Regions from separate parts of the Homo sapiens genome. Here regions 2, 3 and 4 are each linked to region 1. Evidence: fine-mapped expression QTL. A gene starts in region 1. Each other region holds a variant in brackets. All regions are shown on one strand. Distances are between the middles of the regions. Region 1 holds the start of CRCP (CGRP receptor component). Region 2 has its middle 32 kb from the start of LINC00174. Region 3 overlaps LINC00174 (long intergenic non-protein coding RNA 174). Region 4 overlaps VKORC1L1 (vitamin K epoxide reductase complex subunit 1L1).

What was found. PIP is the estimated chance that this variant, and not a neighbour inherited with it, causes the effect.
Region 2: its variant is the best candidate, but not a certain one, in a credible set for the expression of CRCP in esophagus mucosa (GTEx, PIP 0.71).
Region 3: its variant is the best candidate, but not a certain one, in a credible set for the expression of CRCP in whole blood (INTERVAL, PIP 0.54).
Region 4: its variant is the best candidate, but not a certain one, in a credible set for the expression of CRCP in whole blood (INTERVAL, PIP 0.56).

The regions. Positions count from the first base shown.
Region 1 is chr7:66,112,262-66,117,433 of GRCh38, reverse strand. CRCP (CGRP receptor component) reads right to left here and starts at 2,587. Exons shown (of 6, transcript NM_014478.5): 1 at 2,464-2,587. The coding sequence starts at 2,471. RefSeq lists silencers at 1,798-2,092, 3,521-3,711 and enhancers at 1,679-2,207, 2,745-2,874.
Region 2 is chr7:66,429,733-66,434,904 of GRCh38, reverse strand. It overlaps the pseudogene RABGEF1P2, the pseudogene LOC124901855 and the pseudogene GRPEL1P1. Among named protein-coding and RNA genes, the nearest start is that of LINC00174, 32 kb to the right of the region's middle. The variant T/A (reference allele first, on the strand shown) is at 2,330.
Region 3 is chr7:66,379,591-66,384,762 of GRCh38, reverse strand. It overlaps LINC00174 (long intergenic non-protein coding RNA 174), which reads left to right. Exons shown (of 5, transcript NR_026873.1): 4 at 2,332-2,526; 5 at 4,760-5,172. Among named protein-coding and RNA genes, the nearest start is that of LINC00174, 18 kb to the left of the region's middle. The variant T/C (reference allele first, on the strand shown) is at 2,138.
Region 4 is chr7:65,957,126-65,962,269 of GRCh38, reverse strand. It overlaps VKORC1L1 (vitamin K epoxide reductase complex subunit 1L1), which reads right to left. Exons shown (of 3, transcript NM_173517.6): 3 at 2,712-5,144. It overlaps GUSB (glucuronidase beta), which reads left to right. Exons shown (of 12, transcript NM_000181.4): 12 at 1,207-1,586. The coding sequence ends at 1,373. Among named protein-coding and RNA genes, the nearest start is that of GUSB, 23 kb to the left of the region's middle. The variant G/A (reference allele first, on the strand shown) is at 2,902.

The DNA.
Region 1 (5,172 bases):
AAACATACCTTTGAGAACCATCAGCACATAGATGGGTGAAATGACAGAGTGTGGAGAGAAAGGGTCCCAGGACTGAGCCCTAAGATACCACTCAACACTTAGACATCAAGCAAGAGAGGAACGGGACCCAGGGAAGGACACTGAAGTAGTCCTTGATGTAGGAGGAAATACGCAAAGGAACATACATCACAAGAAAAGGAAAGTTTCTAGAGTTTCTGTATTAACCACTGCTGAGAGATCAAGAAAGTTGAGGCCAGAAAATCAACCTCTGAATTTGACAAGATGGAGGGATCAGGTTTTTTTTTTTTTTTTTTTTGAGACAGTCTTGCCCTGTCACCTAGGCTGGAGTGCAGTGGCACAATTTGGTTCACTGCAACCCCTGCCTCCCGAGTTCAAGCGATTCTCCTGCCTCAGCCTCCTGAGTTACTGGGATTACAGGCGCCCACCACTACACCCAGTTAATTTTTGTATTTTTAGTAGAGAGGAGGTTATGCCATGTTGGCCAGGCTGGTCTCAAACTCCTGACCTCAGGGGATTCGCCCACTTCGGCCTCCTAAAGTGCTGCGATTATAGGCATGAGCCACCACGCCCCGCTGGTTCAGGTAATCTTAACAGTCATTCCCGTAGACCAGTGAGGATGAAAGCCCAACAGAATGGCTGAGAGAATGAGGGGCTAATCAGCACTTTCAAGAAGTTTTGTTGGGATGGGAAGCAGAAATGGAGTAAGAGGGGGACATGTATGTGGGGACGGAGGATTTTCTAAGATGAATTCTCTAAAGCAGGGTTGTATGCTCACAGGAAATGCTCTAGTAAAGAGGGAAAAATTAGTAATGATGGCTTGGACTAGAGTAAATTATATGAATAGTTTTTTAGGTTGCAGATGAAATCCCATCAGTGGGTTGCAAAATTAATTCAGTGGTTCAATTTTTTTTTTTTTTTTTTTTTAAGACAGAGCCTTACACTGTCACTCTGGCAGGAGTGTAGTGGCTCTATCTCAGCTCATTGCAGCCTCCTGGGATCAAGTGATCCTCCCATCTCAGCCTCGTAAGTAGCTGAGACTACAGGCATGAACCACCACACCCAGCTAACTTCTTAATTTTTTGCAGAGACAGGGTCTCCCTATGTTGCCCAGGCTGGTCTCCACCTCCCAGGTTCAAGTGATCCTTCTGCCTAAGCTTCCCAAAGTGCTGGGATTGCTGGTGTGAGCCACCACGGTTGGCCCCATTCATATTAATAAAAAATAGACAATATGAGAGTGTACGCCACACATTATTGTTTCATGAGCCTTTCATTTCAGTTACACAGACATATTGTGTTTAAAAAAAAATCGGAAGAGGCCAGGTGAAGTGGCTCACGCCTGCAATCCCAGGACTTTGGGAGTACAAAGCAGGAGGATCACTTGAGCTCAGGAGCTGGAGACCAGCCTGGGCTGTAGTGAGACCCTGCATCTACAAAACTTTTTTTAAAAAATTAGCGGTGAGTGATGGCGTGGGCCTGTAGTCCCAGCTACTGAAGAGGCTGAAGCAGGATTGCTTGAGTCCAGAAAGTGAGGCTGCAGTGAACCATGATTACACCCCGCCTGGGGGACAGAGCAAGACCCTGTTTCTTAAGAAAAAACAATTAATTAAAAATGTAAAAATGTGAAATGCCATAGTACATATAACCATTAAACATGAGGCAAAAGAACATAAAGGAAACTGTATCAAATAATCAGTTCAAAGAGAACACAAGATAGTAATACCTACAAATTAATATCAACCGTATAAAGCCCACATTCAGAGTAGATGCAAAATCTTCCATTTGCACCAGGCGCAACGAGCAAGCATGGAAAAGACCACGTGGAGTTAAACTGTCAGAAAATCTTTTACCCTCGCCTTGCACACACACCCACACACCCCCTGCTGTTTCTCTGGTCCCAGTCCTGGTTCACGTCCTTCCCTTCTCCACCCCAAAACCAGCCCCTTCCCTCACAGTGTTTACTGCTCCCATCAAATTCCGAGGGCAGCTCTTCCGAGGGCTCTCCAGGGGCCTACAGCTGCAAGCAGAGCTCTACCCGGCCCTGATTCGTCTCTCCTCCACCTACTTTCAGGGCGGACAGACTCAGGCCTTTATAGCCTTCTAAGTCCGGGGTCGGATACCAGACTGGGCTCCACCCCCGCACTGTGACCCAGAAACGCTGGTAAACGAATGAGAGAAGGAGGGGGCACATTGAAAGGCAGCCGGACACGGAAGTGCTCGGCCCCGCACCAGACACGGCGTGGAGGGGAAGCGAAGGTTCGGAAGGGCAAAGCGAGAGTCCCGTTCGTCCCCGTCACCACCCCGCGGCCCTCCCGGACAGGGCCGGCCCGCTGCCCTCACTCCCGTACGAGGGTCGCCCAGTCCCCACGGCTCTCGGCTCTCAGCTCTCAGCGGTCAAACCGTTGGGCTCCTCGGGCGAAAAGGGACGCGCCCGAGAAGACTTACACTTCCATGACGTCCCGCCTCGTCGCCCCTAGCTGCCAGCAGACAAAGAACCTCACACTTCACAGCTGTCTCCGCCGCCACCAACAGCGCCAAGGTGCCAGCTCCGCGCGCCAAGGTGCTCGCCGGGATCGCCGCGCTGCATGCCGGGAGCTTGGCGGACCCGGAACCTCGCGCTGCGCGTTCCCCTTTTTCGGGGGGCAGGGTGGGGGAGTGTCCCTGCATCCTTCCACCAGGCCGATTTAAGACTGCTAAGCGTTTGCGGACAGGATTATCTTGTGTTTTCTTTTCTTTTTTTCTTTAACCTTTTTTTTTTTTTGAGACGGAGTCTCGCTCTGTCGCCCAGGCTGGATCTCGGCTTACTGCAACCTCCGCCTCCTGGGTTCAAGCGATTCTCCTTCTGCCTCAGCCTCCCAAGTAGCTGGGACTACAGGCGCTTGCCACCAAGCCCGGCTAATTTTTTGTGTTTTTAGTAGAGACGGGGTTTCACCGTGTTAGCCAGGATGGTTTCAATCTCCTGACCTCGTGATCCGCCCGCCTCGGCCTCCCAAAGTCCTGGGATTACAGGCGTGAGGCACCGTGCCCAGCCTCTTTTTTTCTTTTTTGAGACAGAGTCTCGCTCTGTCACCCAGGCTGGAGTGCAGTGGCACGATCTCGGCTCACTGCAATCTCTGCCTCCCAGGTTCAAGCAATTCCCTGCCTCAGCCTCCCGAGTAGCTGGGATTACAGGCGCCCGCCATAACGCCTAGCTAATTTGTGTATTTTTTAGTAGAGACGGGGTTTCATCATCTTGGCCAGGCTAGTCTTGAACTCCTGACCTCGTGATCCACCCGCTTCGGCCTCCCAAAGTGTTGGGATTACAGGCGTGAGCCACCTCGCCGGGCTCTGTCTGTTTTCGTGGTCTAGGTTTTAACAAAGTATTAATCAGCTGAAGTTGTGAGACGTGATCGGGTTAGTGGGCCTTTGCATGTTAAAATCCCACCTCTCAGAGAGTAGTGAGGCTGGTGGCATCTGGGCTGCCAGAAACATTGCAGTTTATTTATTTATTTTTTAAGAGACAGGGTCTTGCTCTGTCGCCCAGGCTGGAATGCAGTGGTGCAATCAGAGCTCACTGCAGCCTTGAACTCCTGGGCTCAAGCAATCCTCCCACCCCAGCCTGCCAGAGTAGCTGGGACCACAGGTGCGCTCCGCTACACCTGGCTAATTTTCTTTTTTTCTTTTTCTTTTTCTTTTTTTTTTTTTTTGAGATCAGTCTCACTCTGTTGCCCAGGCTGGAGTGCAGTGTCGTGATCTCGGCTCATTGCAACCTCTGCCTCCTGGATTCAAGCAGTTCCCTGCCTCAGCCTCCCCAGTAGCTAGGATTACAGGTGCCCGCCATAATGCCCAGCTAATTTTTGTATTTTTTTAGTAGAGACGGGGTTTCACCATCTTGGCCAAGCTGGTCTTGAACTCCTGACCTTGTGATCCACCCTCATCAGCCTCCCAAAGTGTTGGGATTACAGGCGTGAGCCACTGCACCCAGCCACCTGGCTAATTTTCTAAAATAAAATTCTTTATTGTCCAAAGAGTCAGCTACAAAATTTTTTAATTTTTTTGTAGAGATGGGGGTCTCACTGTGTTGCCCAGGCTGGTCTTGAACTCCTCGCCTCAAGTGATCCTCCCACCTCCAACTCCCAAAGTGCTGGGATTACAGGTGTGAACCACCACAATAGCCTCTGTTGCCTACTTTGTAAATAATAAGGGTGTTAAATAATCCTTATAAAGTTCCTGGCACTTTATTAATTACTGTGGCAATACAACCATGACTCTCTATGAGGTACATTGCATTATTATTGACATTTTATAATTGAAGAAACTGAGGCAGACTTGGAGAGATTATGATTTACCAAAAGTCACTCATCTAGGAAGTTGTCCAGTGGGTATTGAACCCCAGCCAATCTGAACATATACAACAGATGCATTAACTAGAGACTGATGAGTGGATGAATAAAATGTGCTACATTTGTGCAATGGAAAACTACTTAAAAAGGAGGCTGGCCGGGCACGGTGGCTCACGCCTGTAATCCCAGCACTTTGGGAGGCCGAGGCGGGCAGATCACGATGTCAGGAGATCGAGACCATCCTGGCTAACAGGGTGAAACCCCGTCTCTACTAAAAATACAAAAAAAATTAGCCGGGCGTGGTGGTGGGCGCCTGTAGTCCCAGCTACTAGGGAGGCTGAGGCAGGAGAATGGCGTGAACCCAGAAGGCAGAGCTTGCAGTGAGCCAAGATCGTGCCACTGCACTCCAGCCTGGAAGACAGGGCAAGACTCTGTCTCAAAAATATAAAAATAAAAAGGAGGCCAGGCTTGATCTCAGCACTTTGGGGAGCAGAGGCAGGAGGATTTCTTGAGACAAGGAGTTCCAGAGCAGCCTGGGCAACATAGCTAGACCCCCTAACTACGAAAAGTTAGCCAGGTGTGGTGGTGAGCACCTCTAGTCCCAGCTACTGGGGAGGCTGAGGTAGGAGAATCGCTTGAGCCAGAAGGTAGAGGCTGCAGGGAACTATGATCACACCACTGCACTCCAGCCTACAGAGTGAGAGACCTTGTTGCAAAAAATATATATAGACAGACTGATAGATAAATGCTGCAAGATGGATAACCTCCCAAAACATGATGCTATTAATAAGTGAAAGAAGCCAGACACAAAATAATATATATTGCCTGGCCA
Region 2 (5,172 bases), 320 kb before region 1:
CTTGCAGCAGAGCAGCCAAAAATTGGTGGAGGAGGCAAATATGTGTAGCATTCAGGGCTTCTGCAAGGACTCGTTAGAGGTTGCAGATGTTTTGGAGAAGGCAACACAGTGTGTTCCAGAAGAAGAAATTAAAGACAATAACCATCACCTGAAGAACCTCTGTGAAACTCTCACAATGAGTGAAGGTCAGATTCAGGAAGTGTTCAGCAAGCACCACCAAGCTGAACCCTGTCAGAGCCAAGTTCCACCGTTATGTGCATGAGGGTCTTTTTTTTGTCTTTCTTCACATCCGACAGGCAATGTGCCAGTGCTGTAACAAGGTTTGAGCAAGGCATATCTCACACATGAAAACCCAGTGTGAAAACCTAGTCATCACACTCCCAGTGCTTTGGGAGGCTGAGGCAGGTGGATCACTTGAGGTCAAGAGTTACAGACCAGCCTGGCCCACATGGCGAAACTCTGTGTCTACTAAAAATACAAAAATTAGCCAGGCGTGGTGGCGTACGCCTGTAGTCCCAGCTACTCGGAGACTGAGGCAGGGGAATTGCTTTAACCTGGGAGGCGGAGGTTTCAGTGAGCCAAGTTTGCACCACCGCACTCCAGCCTGGGCAACAGAGTGAGACTCCGTCTCAAAAAAAAAAAAATACTTTGCAGGTCAGTATAAACACTTAAAATATCATTTGAATCACTGTGTTACATTATTTATTATAGAAAAAGAGGGAAACAAATATACCATATGTTTTTTTTTTGTGTGAGGGGGTAAAAAGCAAGAATTTGTGAAGCGGGGATGTTTCCAAATCCAGCAGAGTTTTTAATATATTCTAAAATGAAAGTCATCACACCTAGATGAGATTTGGGTAAAAAATGAAAATACGGAACAGTGAAATCAGCCAGAGATTTCAGAAATAGATTTAATTTCTCAGGAGCAAGTTACATGACACCTGGAGGACGAGGGGGAACAAGGTTGTGCTTTACTAACTGCTGATGGTGATGACAGATACACTTGTATAGAGTTTTAGTTCTGTTTCATACCATGCACCTTACATTCCAGCCAAATCAAAGAGCTAAACATGAAAAAATTGAGAAGAAAGTAGATTAGGATATGAGCTGGGTATGGTGGCTCATGCCTATAATCCCATCACTTTGGGAGGCCAAGGCAGCCAGATGAGTAGAGGCTAGGAGTTTCAGACCAGCCTGGTCAACATGGGGAAACTCCATCACTACTAAAAATACAAAAACTGGAGTTTGAGACCAGCCTGGTCAACATGGGGAAACTCCATCACTACTAAAAATACAAAAATTATCTGAGCGTTGTAGCAGGTGCCTGTAATCCTAGCTACTCAGGAGGCTGAGGCAGGAGAATCACTTGAACCCGGAGGTGGAGGTTGCACTGAGCCAAGATCACACCATTGCACTCCAGCCTGAGCAAGAGAGCAAGACTGTCTCAAAAAAATAAAAAAATAAAATATTAGCTTGGGCGTGGTGGTTCATGCTTGTAATTCCAGCTACTTGGGAGGCTGAGGCAGGAGAATCGCTTGAACCAGGGAGGCAGAGGTTACAATGAGATCACACCACTGCAGCCTGTGTGAGAGAGCGAGACTCCATCTCGGGGAAAAAAAAAAAAGAAAAAAATATATGAACGGTACCTTAGGATACGTATTTCAGCTGTAGAGAGGAGCAAAAATTGAACCATCAAAAAATTGTTTTACCTGGGCACGGTGGCTCACACCTGTAATCCTAGCACTTTTAGAGGTCAAGGCAGGAGGATCACTTAAGCCCAGGAGTTTGAGACGAGACTGGGCAACATAGTGAGACCTTGTTTCTATATATTAAAAAAAAAAAAAAAGAGAAATAAAATTAAAAACTTACAAGAAATTTGTTTGTTTTTGAGACAGAGTGTTGCTCTGCCGCCCAGGCTGGAGTGCAATGGCATGATCTTGGCTGACTGCAACCTCCACCTCCCGGGTTCAAGCAATTCTCCTGCCTCAGCCTCCCAAGTATCTGGATTACAGGTGTGCAGTAGCATGCCCAGCTAATTTTTGTATTTTTAGTAGAGACGGGTTTTGCCATGTTGGCCAGGCTGGTCTTGAACTCCTGACCTAAGGTGATCCGTCCGCCTCGGCCTCCCAAAGTGCTGGGATTACAGGCGTGAGCCACTGCACCCAGCCAAAAGAATTGTTTTTAATGACCAGATAAAAGGCTTAATAGTATTAACTTTTTAAAAATCTGTGCAATAAAAAATAAAACATGGGAAGTCATGAATATAAATAAGAGCTTCATATAGTGAAATATCTAAACTTTACTAAAGGTAGCACCTAGGCTTTTATAG[T/A]TGAGGGATCAATTTTAATTCAACCAAATGGCATGTATATGGGTAACTAGTTGACAGTGATTAGGGCTGCAGTCAAGGTGATCCCATGACTTGTGATCACCATGATCACATGTGTGCTTGAGTGCTTGGCCATTTTCACTGAGGGAATGAGGTGACTGCCCCTGACCCCCAGTGTCCTGCCTTCCTTTTAGAGTTAAGCCAGATGGTCGACTGCTGCAGGCTTCCACAGGATGTATCGGTGCTTGGCGTGTGAGGTCAGTGGCCTGTGTAGATGAGGTCTGTGACAGCCAGTCCTGGGGGTTTGTTCTCAGCCTTATTCATGTTCTTCTACTGTGACATCCTTGTGAGAACCATTGGGAGAAATTTTTGATTTTGGTGTCAGAATTTCACCTGAAGAATTTGTTTGCTTTCATCTTTTTTTTTTTTAAGTTTTTTTTTCTTTTATTATTATACTTTAAGTTTTAGGGTACATGTGCACATTGTGCAGGTTAGTTACATATGTATACATGTGCCATGCTGGTGCGCTGCACCCACTAACTTGTCATCTAGCATTAGGTATATCTCCCAATGCTATCCCTCCCCCCTCCCCCCACCCCACAACAGTCCCCAGAGTGTGATGTTCCCCTTCCTGTGTCCATGTGATCTCATTGTTCAATTCCCACCTATGAGTGAGAATATGCAGTGTTTGGTTTTTTGTTCTTGCGATAGTTTACTGAGAATGATGATTTCCAATTTCATCCATGTCCCTACAAAGGACATGAACTCATCAAACTGCATCAACTAACGAGCAAAATAACCAGCTAACATCATAATGACAGGATCAAATTCACACATAACAATATTAACTTTAAATGTAAATGGACTAAATGCTCCAATTAAAAAACACCATGCTTTCATCTTTTGAACCCTGAATTACGTAACTGTTTTCATCTTAATGATGATTGCTAAGAAGTTTAGTTAGAGACAGATGTATGGGCTGACTCTTGACTAATTTAGACATCTTCCAGGAAAACATTTCTGTCTTGTCATTTAGGTCTCTCTCCATGTGTGATTTTTTTTTTTTTTTTTTTTTTTGAGATGGAGTCTCTCTGTGTTGCCCAGGCTGGAGTGCAGTGGTGCAATCTCGGCTCACTGCAAGCTCCGCCTCCCAGGTTTACACCATTCTCCCACCTCAGCCCCCTGAGTAGCTGGGACTACAGGTGCCCGCCACCACACCCGGATACTTTTGTTTTTGTATTTTTCGTATAGACTGAGTTTCACCATGTTGGCCAGGATGGTCTCCATCTCCTGACCTTGTGATCTGCCCACCTTGGCCTCCCAAAGTGTTGGGATTACAGACGTGAGCCACCAAGCCCGGCCTAAAATTTTAAAAAAATTTTTAAAATTATCTTTCTTTTCTTTTCTTTTCCTTTTCTTTTCTTTTCTTTCTTGAGATGGGTTCTCACTATGTTGCCCAGGCTGGTCTCAAACTCCTAGGCTCAATCGATCCTCTAGCTGCAGCCTCCCAGAGCACTGGGATTACAGTTATTTGTTACTCTTTTTATTTTCTAGTCCGTTGTGCTGAACTGCATTTATCTTTTAAATAGACTTTAAATATTCTTTGGCAGAAAGTGAGGAATAAATGCATATATTCTATGTATAAAATCAGTAAAACCAAATACAAATTATCAAGCCCACTGTTGTAAGGGCCATAGGGAAATAAGCGCATACACGTGGTTAATGACAGTGTGCACTGAGTTTCCGAGGAGTGTGGCTAGCAATAGATACTTAGTGCTGTAACGGTGTTTATTCTTATTAAGTGGTTAATGCCACTTTTGGAAATGTATCACAGAGAATTTAACTCAGAAGAAGATAGTCCTTACAAAATTATTTATTGCTACAGTGCACAACAATGAAAGAGGGGAAGCAACCCAAATGCACAGCGGTAGAGGAGAGTTGAATAAGTCAGTTAATATAATGCAATGCTATAAAGCCACCAAAAATGTTTGGTGGGTTAGATAAATAGAAGTGTCCATAAAATATGTAAATTATCAAAACATGCATTAAATCTATTTAAGAGTATGTAGATATAGCAAAAAGAATGAGATGGTCATGGTGAGACACCACTAGGTAGGAAGGGGTCCCCAGAAAAACTCCAGCTGGCCTGTGCACTGGGGTGGAACTTGAAGTTTGCACCGTTGATAGCGGGGAGGAGCCTGGCACCTCTTCTTACTGTGTAAAACCCATTATTCTAGCTGCTGGCAGAAAGCACTCTAGCAGGGACTCTGGCCTTGTGAGAGTCCCAATAAAACCCTGCCTTACTCACCATTCAAACCGTCTGTAAGCCTAAATTTTTGTGGCCTTGAGACGGACAAGGACCCCGTCCTTAGCTGAACTAAGGAAAAATCCTGCAACAGTGGATACTGGAAATAATGTTAATGGATGGGTTTTACTCTCCTGAAGGATTAATATAATCTGTGAGTACTTTTATGCTTACTGCCAGTACAAGGAGTGGCTTACTTACTATCAGTACAAGGAGTATATATACTCTCTTGAGCTTTTCTGTTTGGCTATTTCAGTGCCTCCAGAATGAGTTGAGAAGATAAATGGATCAGATTGAAAAGTACATCATGACTCATCTCTATAAATATGTGTTCTGTCCAGAAACTACTGATGATGAGATGAAAGATCTTGCCATTCAAAAGAGGATCAGGTAGTTGCTTATTTTGTTTTGCTTTATGCTTACTACCTACTGATGGAAGAACATATTGGGGGAAAATAAGGCATCTGAGTTTCAAACCTTAAGAGAAAGCAACAGCTCATGTTTCTGCTTCCTTAGAGTGGAAGCTGCTCTGTGGTGTCAG
Region 3 (5,172 bases), 270 kb before region 1:
GGAGCCGTGCAGTGGGATTTGCATTGCTGGGAATGAAGAGACCCCTGCCCAGTATTGCTGCCTGACTAATCAGTGTTTTAAAAAATATATGAATCTGTTGGGAGGCCGAGGCGGGCGGATCACGAGGTCAGGAGATCTAGACCATCCTGGCTAACACGGTGAAACCCTATCTCTACTAAAAATACAAAAAAATCAACCGGGCGTGGCAGTGGGCACCTGTAGTCCCAGCTGCTGGGGAGGCTGAGGCAGGAGAATGGTATGAACCTGGGAGATGGAGCTTGCAGTGAGCCGAGATTGTGCCACTGCACTCCAGCCTGGGGAACAGAGCGAGACTCTGTCTCAAAAAATATATATATATATAAATAAATATATATGTAAATATATATAATGTATAAAAATATATGTAAATATATTAATATATAAATATACATGCAAATATATATTAATATGTATGTAAACATTAATGTATATGTAAATATATATTAATATATGTAATATATATAATTATATATATTAATCAGTGTGGGCACAATGGCTTACGCCTGTAATCCCAGCACTTTGGGTGACCGAGGTGATCACCTGAGGTCAGGTGATCACCTGAGGTCAGGATTTCGAGACCAGCCTGGCCAACATGGCTAAACCACATCTCTACTAAAAAAACATAAAAATTAGCCAGCCATGTTGGTGGGCACCTGTAATGCCAGCTACTTGGGAAGCTGAGCCAGGAGAATTGCTTGAACCCAGGTGGCGGAGGTTGCAGTGAGTCAAGATCGTGCCACTTCACTCCAGCGTGCGTAAGTCAGACTTTGTTTCCCCCCCAAAAAAAAGTACTACTTACGTCAACTTGTAATGGTTTTATTATTCATGTGTAATGAATGTATATTTTAAAAATTTGTCCTGTACTATATCAACATGAAATGGTTTTATTATTAATATGTAATGAATAATATTTTAAAATTTGTCTTATTTTCTAATTTTAATATAATTATTTATATAAAGAAAAAGGCTTAAGAGATCTTCAATAGAGTTAAAAAATGTAAAGGGATGCTAGACCCAAAAAGATTGGGAACATGTAGTTTAGACATATTCAGAGTAAGCCACGTACAACTTGCTACTTTACCTATTTTCTTTCCTTTTTTTGTTTTGTTTTGTTTTAGAAGATGGGGTCTCCTCTGCAACCCAGGCTGGAGTACAGTGGTGCAATCACAGCTCACTGTAGCCTTGAACTCCTAGGCTAAGGCTCCTCCTGCCTCAGCCTCCTGAGTAGCTGGGACTGTAGTTATATATGATGACACCTGGCTATTCTTTAAATTGTTTTGTAGACATGGGGTCTCACTTTGTTGGCCAGGCTGGTGTCAAACTCCTGGCCTCAAGTGACCCTTCTACCCCTGCCTCCCATCCTAGAGGTATGAGCCACCACAACAAGCACTTGTTCGATTTTCTAAAAAACAAATTTCCAAATTAAGGCTGTGGGATGATGGCCAGAAGATAAAGTAGAAAAACAGAATAATAGGCCGGGCGCGGTGGCTCACGCCTGTAATCCCAGCACTTTGGGAGGCCGAGGTGGGTGGATCGCGAGGTCAGAGTTCGAGACCAGCCTGGCCAACATGTTGAAACCCCGTCTCGACTAAAGATACAAAAAAATTTAGCCAGGCGTGGTGGCACGTGCCTGTAATCCCAGCTACTCGGGAGGCTGAGGCAGGAGAATCGCTAGAACCTGGGAGGTGGAGGTTGCAGTGAGCTGAGATCGTGCCATTGCACTCCAGCCTGGGTGACAGGGCAAGACTCTATCTCTAAAAAAGAAAAACAGAAGAATAAATTCTAATGACTTACACATATTCTTTTGACAGCAAGAAGAACTTTTAGTAAATACATTCCTTACAAACAAACAGAAGGCAAATAAACACTGTTGTACAGGAACTTCAACACACACTGTACAATATTCCCACTTTGCTGATGTCAGTTATGGAAATTCTTCATGGTTTACTTGACTATCGCTATCAGTATTTTGCATCTCTCATCATTTTTGTCAACTTCCTCATCTGCTAACTTCTCTCCAAGGTATGTCATATTGTGACATACTGCTGCTGCACGAACATGGCCAGTGTCATCCTATTAAACATGTAGAATCCTTCCC[T/C]AATTTGTTTTTTTACCCTCTGTCTCTTTGTTTTGCATTTTTCTTACCCTTATTGTCAGAAACTCCAGAAAGTCAATCGTAGTGATTTATCACCAATTGCTCCATTAATTTATACTTTGCTTACATGGAATTTTGCCCAACAGACATCATTACAATTTCTAACCTTTTTTTTTTTTTTTTTTTTTTTTCCTGAGACAGGGTCTTGCTCTGTTGTCCAGGCTGGAGTGCGGTAGTGCTATCACAGCTGACTGCATCCTCAACCTCTCAGGCTCAAGCAGTCCTCCCACCTCAGCCTCCCAGGTGGCTGAGACTGTACGTGCTTGCCACAATGCCCAACTAATAATTTGGACTTTTCCTATACATGGGTTCCAAAGGGCTGACTGCGAAACGTGAGTATGCATGGATTTTGGTATATGCAGAGATGGGGGGCTGGAACGAATCCTTTCTGTATACTGACGGACGACCATATATGTTTTTACACTTATGCTGTACGACACATATTGTTCCATAGCCTTGAAAATAGTAATTTTTAATGACAAATAATTTTGAATTTAGTGGTATAATATAAAAGCAGCTGACCAGGTGTGGTGGCTCACACCGGTAATCACAACACTTTGGGAGGTTGAAGCAGGAGGATGGCTCAAGGCCAAGAGTTTGAGACAGGTCTCAGAAATCAAGGGAATCACCATCCCTACAGAAATATACATGAATTAGCCTAGTGTGGTGGCATGTTCTTGTAGTCCCAGCTACTTGGGAGGCTGAGGTGGGAGGATCACTTGAGCCCAGGGAGGCTTAGACTGCAGTGAGTCATGATCAGGCCTCTGCACTCCAGCCTGAGTGACAGAGTGACCCCATCTCAAAACAACAAAAAAGTAGCAGCTAACATTAACTGTCCTTCTACCAGGTGCCTATAAATACCATAGATAGTTTAATTTCTTTTTTTTTTTTTTTTTTTGAGACGGAGTCTCGCTCTGTCACCCAGGCTGGAGTGCAGTGGCGCAGTCTCGGCTCACTGCAAGCTCCGCCTCCCGGGTTCACGCCATTCTCCTGCCTCAGCCTCTCCGAGTAGCTGGGACTACAGGCGCCCGCCACCACGCCCGGCTAATTTTTTTTTATTTTTAGTAGGGACGGGGTTTCACCGTGGTCTCGATCTCCTGACCTCGTGATCCACCCGCCTCGGCCTCCCAAAGTGCTGGGATTACAAGCGTGAGCCACCGCGCCCGGCCAGATAGTTTAATTTCTTATAACTGTTTCTTATTTCACTTAACCACTCTGTCTTCAGTTACTACCAGATTTTCACTGTGTTTGTGCAGATGACCTTTTGTTTAGGTTCAGTTGTCTTGCAAGGTATTTCCAGAAGAAAGATTACAGTGAGTCATGGTGAATGGACATTCTCATTGTCCTTGATGTAAATTGACAAGGTTTTGGGTGCCTCGCAGGTATAATCCCAGCACTTTGGGAGGCCAAGGCAGGAGGATTGCTTGACCCCAGGATTTGGAGGAGACAGTAGGGTGAGACAGTGTCTCTATTATTAAAAAAATTGCTGGTCAGGTGTGGTGGCTCACGCCTGTAATCCCAACACTTTGGGAGGCTGAGGTGGGTGGATCACCTGAGTTCTGGCTTGCGATAACCAGCCTGACCAACATGGAGAAACCCTGTCTCTACTAAAAATACAAAATTAGCTGGGTGTGGTGGCACACACATGTGATCCCAGCTACTCAGAGGCTGAGGCAGGAGAATCACTTGAACCCAGGAGGTGGAGGTTGTGGTGAGCCGACATCGCACCATTGCACTCCAGCCTGGGCAACAAGAGTGAAACTCCATCTCAAAAAAAAATAAATAAATAAATAAACAATTGGAAGCTTTACCGTGAAAGGCTTACATACAATTTAAACACCCCTCATTGTATAAGAAAGTGCCCATTTCACTGCATCTTTGCCAGCACAGGGTATTATAATTTAATAAGTTATTTTTTGTTTTATGATTTTATTATTACTTTATTTGTCACATTTCAACATCTTATACATTATTAGCCCTATTTCTTTTCTGTGTGTAAATAGTTGTTTTGTTCTTTGAGACAGGGTCTTGCTTTGTCACCCAGGCTTGACTATAGTGCCATAATCATGACTCACTGTAGCCTTGACCTCACAGGCTCAAACTACCCTCCTACTTCAGCTTCCCGAGTAGCTGGGATTATGAGTATGCACCACCACACGCAGCTAATTTTTTTCTTTTTTTGGATAGAGACAGGGTGTTGCCCAGGCTGGTCTCTACCTCCTGGCCTCAAGCAATCCTCCTGCATTGGCTTCTTAAATTACTGGCATGAGCCACCATGCCTTACTTTGGCTAGTCCTATATTCTCTAGAATTCTCTTTACTTTGTGCTAGCCAATCTCTCATGCTGTTCCCCTGTTATAATGAATAATTATCTATATTAAATTTTAGCACTTTGGGCTTTTGAGTGGTTTATGTCTCCTGATTGGACCCTGACTAATACAGAGTTGATGCTGGGAAGGGTCCCAGGAGACAGACCCACACAGATGGGATTTGGGGATCAGTTTGGTTATCTTAGGGGCCGTGCTGAGCTCCTTGCAATGGGAAATGGGATGCTGTTGATTTCCAGGAAGTGACCTCACAATGACTCAAGCTACCACTTAGTGTTGATTGTGATGAAATGCCAGCTGTGGCATATGCCTTGGGAGCTAAGTGGCTGCTGCACTTGACCACTATGAAGACTGGTGTGGAAGGGTCCTTCTGGATGTACTTGGGCAGGGTCCCCAACGCCAGAGCCATGGAACTGTAAGGAGCCACACAGCCGGAGGTGAATGGTGTTGAATGAGGGAAGCTTCATCTGTGTTTACAGCCACTCCCCATTGCTCACATTCCTGCCTGAGCTCTGCCTTCTCTCAGATCAGCAGCAGCATTAGATTCTCATAGGAGCATGCACCCCATTGTGAACCATGCATGTGAGGGATCTACGTTGCGCTGTCCCTATGAGAATCTAATGCCTGATGCTCTGTCACTTTCTCCAATATT
Region 4 (5,144 bases), 160 kb after region 1:
ACCACCAGTGGTGGGTGCTGCCAAGCTGGACGTCAGCCCCGGCGGACTTTGAACTCCATGAGTAGGTCCCACGCAGGGACCTGTGGCTGGTCAGGACCCTGGCTCCCACTAGGCGCTATCTCTTCAGAAAGGCCCAAGGCTTTTCAAGGGTAACTGTCCCAGATACCCCTAGCCCTCTGCCTACCCAGTTACCAGACAGCTGGGTACCCAGCATGTAAACCTTAGTTTGCAAATAAAAGATAAACTTTTAGTGCTTTTTTTTTTTTTGGAGATGGAGTCTCACTCTGTCGCCCAGGCTGGAGTGCAGTGGCACAATCTCAGCTCACTGCAACCTCTGCGTCCTGGGTTCAAGCGATTCTCCTGCCCCAGCCTCCTGAGTAGCTGGGACCACAGGCACCCACCACCATGCCTGTATAATTTTTGTATTTTTAGTAGAGATGAGGTTTCACCATATTGTCCAGGCTGGTCTTAATCTCCTGACCTTGTGATCCGCCTGCTTTGTCCTCCCAGAGTGCTGGGATTACAGGCATGAGCCAATGTGCCCAGCCAGTTTTTGTATTTTTAATAGAGGCGGGTTTCCTCATGTTGGCCAGGCTGATCTTGAACTCCTGACCTCAGGTGATCCACCTGCCTCAGCCTCCCAAAGCACTGGGATTACAGGCGTTGGCCACCACACCTGGCCACTGTTTTGGGTTTTTTTCCCCTAACAGACTAGAAAACTAGAAATTAACACACCAGGGAACCTGGGTGTTTGGGCAGAGCAGTGGTATTTAAATATTTCAACCCATAAATTGTCACTTCAGAGCAAGCATCCTGAAACTGTAAGAGGACATTTGGCTGAGCATGGTGGCTTGTGCTTATAATCCCAGCACTTTAGGGAGGCTAAGGAGGGCAGATTGCTTGAGCCCAGTAGTTTGAGACCAGCCTGGACAACATAATGAGACCTTGTCTTTACTAAAAAATAAAAATAAAAGATTACCGGGCATGGTGGTGCTGGAGAGGCTGAGGCAGGAGGATTGCCTGAGCCCAGGAGGTTGAGGCTGCAGTGAGCTATGATTGTGTCACCGCATTCCAGCCTGGGCAACAGGGAGAAAAAAGAAAAAAAAAGACATTTCTATTTAGTGCCTACCTTAGCTCCAGACTGGTTCTAACTTGACCCATCAGAAGACATCTGAATCGCTTTGTGTCTTTTTTTTTTTTTTGTAGCACCGACGAGAGTGCTGGGGAATAAAAAGGGGATCTTCACTCGGCAGAGACAACCAAAAAGTGCAGCGTTCCTTTTGCGAGAGAGATACTGGAAGATTGCCAATGAAACCAGGTATCCCCACTCAGTAGCCAAGTCACAATGTTTGGAAAACAGCCTGTTTACTTGAGCAAGACTGATACCACCTGCGTGTCCCTTCCTCCCCGAGTCAGGGCGACTTCCACAGCAGCAGAACAAGTGCCTCCTGGACTGTTCACGGCAGACCAGAACGTTTCTGGCCTGGGTTTTGTGGTCATCTATTCTAGCAGGGAACACTAAAGGTGGAAATAAAAGATTTTCTATTATGGAAATAAAGAGTTGGCATGAAAGTGGCTACTGAAAAGCATCTGAAATCATTTCTGTGCGTCGTGCTGTTTTCAGAGCTTTAACTGTGTGTGGACTTTTGAGAAACTGCTGCTCCAACACCCCCACCACGTTCAGAGCAGCTGGTTCCCGAGGGCGTCTGCAGGAATAGCCCCATGGTCCTAGGGCCACCGTGTTTGTGTAGCAAACCAGGCCAGCCTCGACAGGGAGTGAGTAGAAGACTTTCACAGCTGCTGTTCGACTCCTCAGATGAGCTAAAGTCCCACATGTACCAACAAATTCATAGAAACGCTGTCATTGTTGCAGCACTTAACAGGGTCTGTGTGCCAGTTTCTACATAGTTAAGCTGGCAGTGTCTGAATTGGAAGGTTAGAGGTAACTGGTTCTCCCAGAACATTGTTTTGACCTCAGCCATAGGGTCTTGACAGAAATGGACAGATGAGTGTAAAAGCCTATTGGCTTTATCATAACGGATGCCACTGAATGTGACAGGACCTCCTTAAACAACTTTGCCTACAAATCAGCATTCCATGCCTTTACACCCCAAAATGACGCTACCTGCCCCCTCCCAGAGCACAGTCTTTCCTTAAGGAATCTGTCCTCCCTCTCTTCCTGGGCTCCAGTAAGGCAAGGATGGTGCATCAATTCTGATTTGAAGTATACGCTTTGGAAAAATACTCCTTTTGGTGTCCAGTCAGTTGAAAGACAATGAACCAATACAGTTTGTTTTGTTTGTTTTGAGACAGTCTTGCTCCGTCGCCCAGGCTGGAGTGCAGTGGCGCAATCTTGGCTCACTGCAACCTCCACCTCTGGGGTTCAAGCAATTCTCCTGCCTCATCCTCCCAAGTAGGTGGAACTACAGGCATCTGCCACCATTCCCAGCTAAATTTTTAAAAATATTTTTAGTAGAGATGGGGTTTCACCATGTTGGCCAGGCTGGTTTCGAACTCTTGACCTCAGGTGATCTGCTCGCCTCAGCCTCCCCAGGTGCTGGGATTATAGGCGTGAGCCACTGTGCCCGGCCTCCAATATGGTTCTTGCTATAGAACTTGATTTTCCCCTCTCTTGTGGTTGAGCCCCGTGTCTCCACACAGACCCTCCTTTTTAGCTTTCCTGTGCAAGCTCCATGAAAGAAAGAATAAAGTTAATTTCATGTGGTTTTATTAGGCATCGTCCATTTTTTAAAAATGAGTGTAGTCAGTTCCAATTAGGAATCTAGAGCTTCTGTATTTTTTTTATCAACTTCTCTTTAGTTTTTCAAAGGAATCAAGTTTTGTGTTCCAGTATGTCAAAGTATAATGAATAAAACTTTTAGTTGACAAACATTAAGAAAA[G/A]TTAAATGTAATAGACACATTTAAATGGTTTACAAATTAGGGGCAGTCCATTGTTTTTTTTCTTGAGCTGGAGTCTTCCTCTGTCGCCTAGGCTGCAGTGCAGTGGCGTGATCTCGTCTCACTGCAACCTCCGCCTCCCTGGTTCAAGCAATTCTCCTGCCTCAGCTTCCTGAATAGCTGGGATTACAGGCGCACACCACAATCCTGGCTAATTTTTCTGTATTTTTCAGTAGAGGCAGGTTTCACCATGTTGGCCAGGCTGGTCTTGAACTCCTGACCTCAAGTGATCCACCCGCCTCTACCTCCCAAAGTGCTGGGATTACAGGCATGAGCCATTGCACCCAGTGGGGGCAGTCCCTTTCCACAGGTCTTGAGCTCCAGCACAGAACACACTTGTTCTATTCCGTGAAGTATGGCTCAGCTGTATTTCCAACGGATTCATCTTTCTTGCCGATGCTACCTTTTTAGAGGATTATACAGGGAGTATTCAAGGTAAGCTAAAGTAAAACTATGGAAAAACAGCTCATTAATACATTCTGAGTGTTCACAGAACTGTAGGCAGTGACACATTTTTGTCATTAATTCTTGACAATCACATACACCGTAAACCTACAGGAATTCCAAGAACTAGAGGTCTGAGGACTCTGAATCTTCTGCAAGTTACATATGATTTAAGAGAAAAAGAATCAACCCTGTATACCTTAGAAATGAGGTTACAGTATTGACTTCAAGAATATAAGGCTCCTACTGAGTCTAAAAAGACTTCGTTTCAGTTCTTTTGGAATGCAACCCTGCAGTTTAAGAATAATGGGAGCACAACTTCCACAGGTAACTTCTACATTTATTTTATACCAAAAAAGTTATGTGCAACAAATAAACATTCTTACATATTTACATTTGGTTTTATTTACCAGTTAGCAAAACAGTGCCTTAAATCTCTGATAAAGAGTATTTCTATCTAGATTAAAGGGGAAACCTGCCCAGTGAACTCCATTTTAAATGACTGTTTACTCTGGAGCTTAAAGCACTAGTAAGAAATATTTCTGATGGAACATACTACACAGATCATATACCTAATAAATACTTAGGCCATGCTTAATACAGTTTTATAACAAAATATTTCACCTTTTCTGGGCGAATTTGTAGTAAAAAATGTTTAACCAAGTAGCCGGGGCTCCCACCCTTGCCCTTTTTGTTTGATGGAAGGGTAGTTCTCACAATTAGAAACCATAAGTGCTGCCTGAGGTGTCTGAAATGTTTCACCCATGACTGTGTGTTAGAGAAAAAGACACGAGGACAGAAATTGCATATTAGGTCATTAGGTCTTTTTCCCCAAATAGGTTACCAGAAATCACAGTGGGTCTCCTTGTTGGCATCTAATAATGATCTTCCAAGACAAGATCTCCTGTCACTCTTGGTACCAATCTAAGTTGTGAAGTAATTGCTGAAGATAACTCTGTACTTTTGCAAATAGTCTTTTCCAAAACTAAATGAAAAACAAAAGTCAACAAATAGTTTTTATTTTTATTTTTTTATTTGAGACAGAGTTTCACTCATTGCCCAGGCTGGAGTGCAATGGCGCAACTGTGGCTCACTGCAACCTCCACCTACTGGGTTCAAGCAATTCTCCTGCCTCAGCCTCTGGAGGAGCTGGCATTACAGGTGCCGCCACCATGCCCAGCTAATTTTTGTATTTTTAGTAAAGACAGGGTTCCACTATGTCGGTCAGGCTGATCTCGAACTTCTGACCTCAGGTGATCCAACCGCCTCGGCCTCCCAAAGTGCTGGGATTACAGGTGTGAGCCACCATGCCCAGCCAGCAAACAGTTTTAATTTCACTGTAGTCTTGGTCCTCTTTGAATGCAGTCTCTCTCTTTTTTTTTTGGGGGGGGGACAGTCTCGCTCTGTTGGCCAGGCTGGAGTGCAGTGGCATGATCTTGACTCACTGCAACCTCTGTCTCCCGGGCTCAAGCAATTCTCCTCCCTCAGCCTCCCGAGTAGCTGGGATTACAGGGGTGTGCCACTGCGCCTGGCTAATTTTTGTATTTTTAGTAGAGATGGGGTTTCACTATGCTGGCCAGGCTGGTCTTGAACTCCTGACCTTAGGTAATCCACCCGCCTCGGCCTCCCAAAGTGCTGGGATTATAGGCGTGAGCCACCGTGCCCGGCCGAATGTAGTTTCTTTGAATGAAAATAGTCAATGCTTTGAACATCATTTGAAAGTAATGAATTTAAGGAGAGGA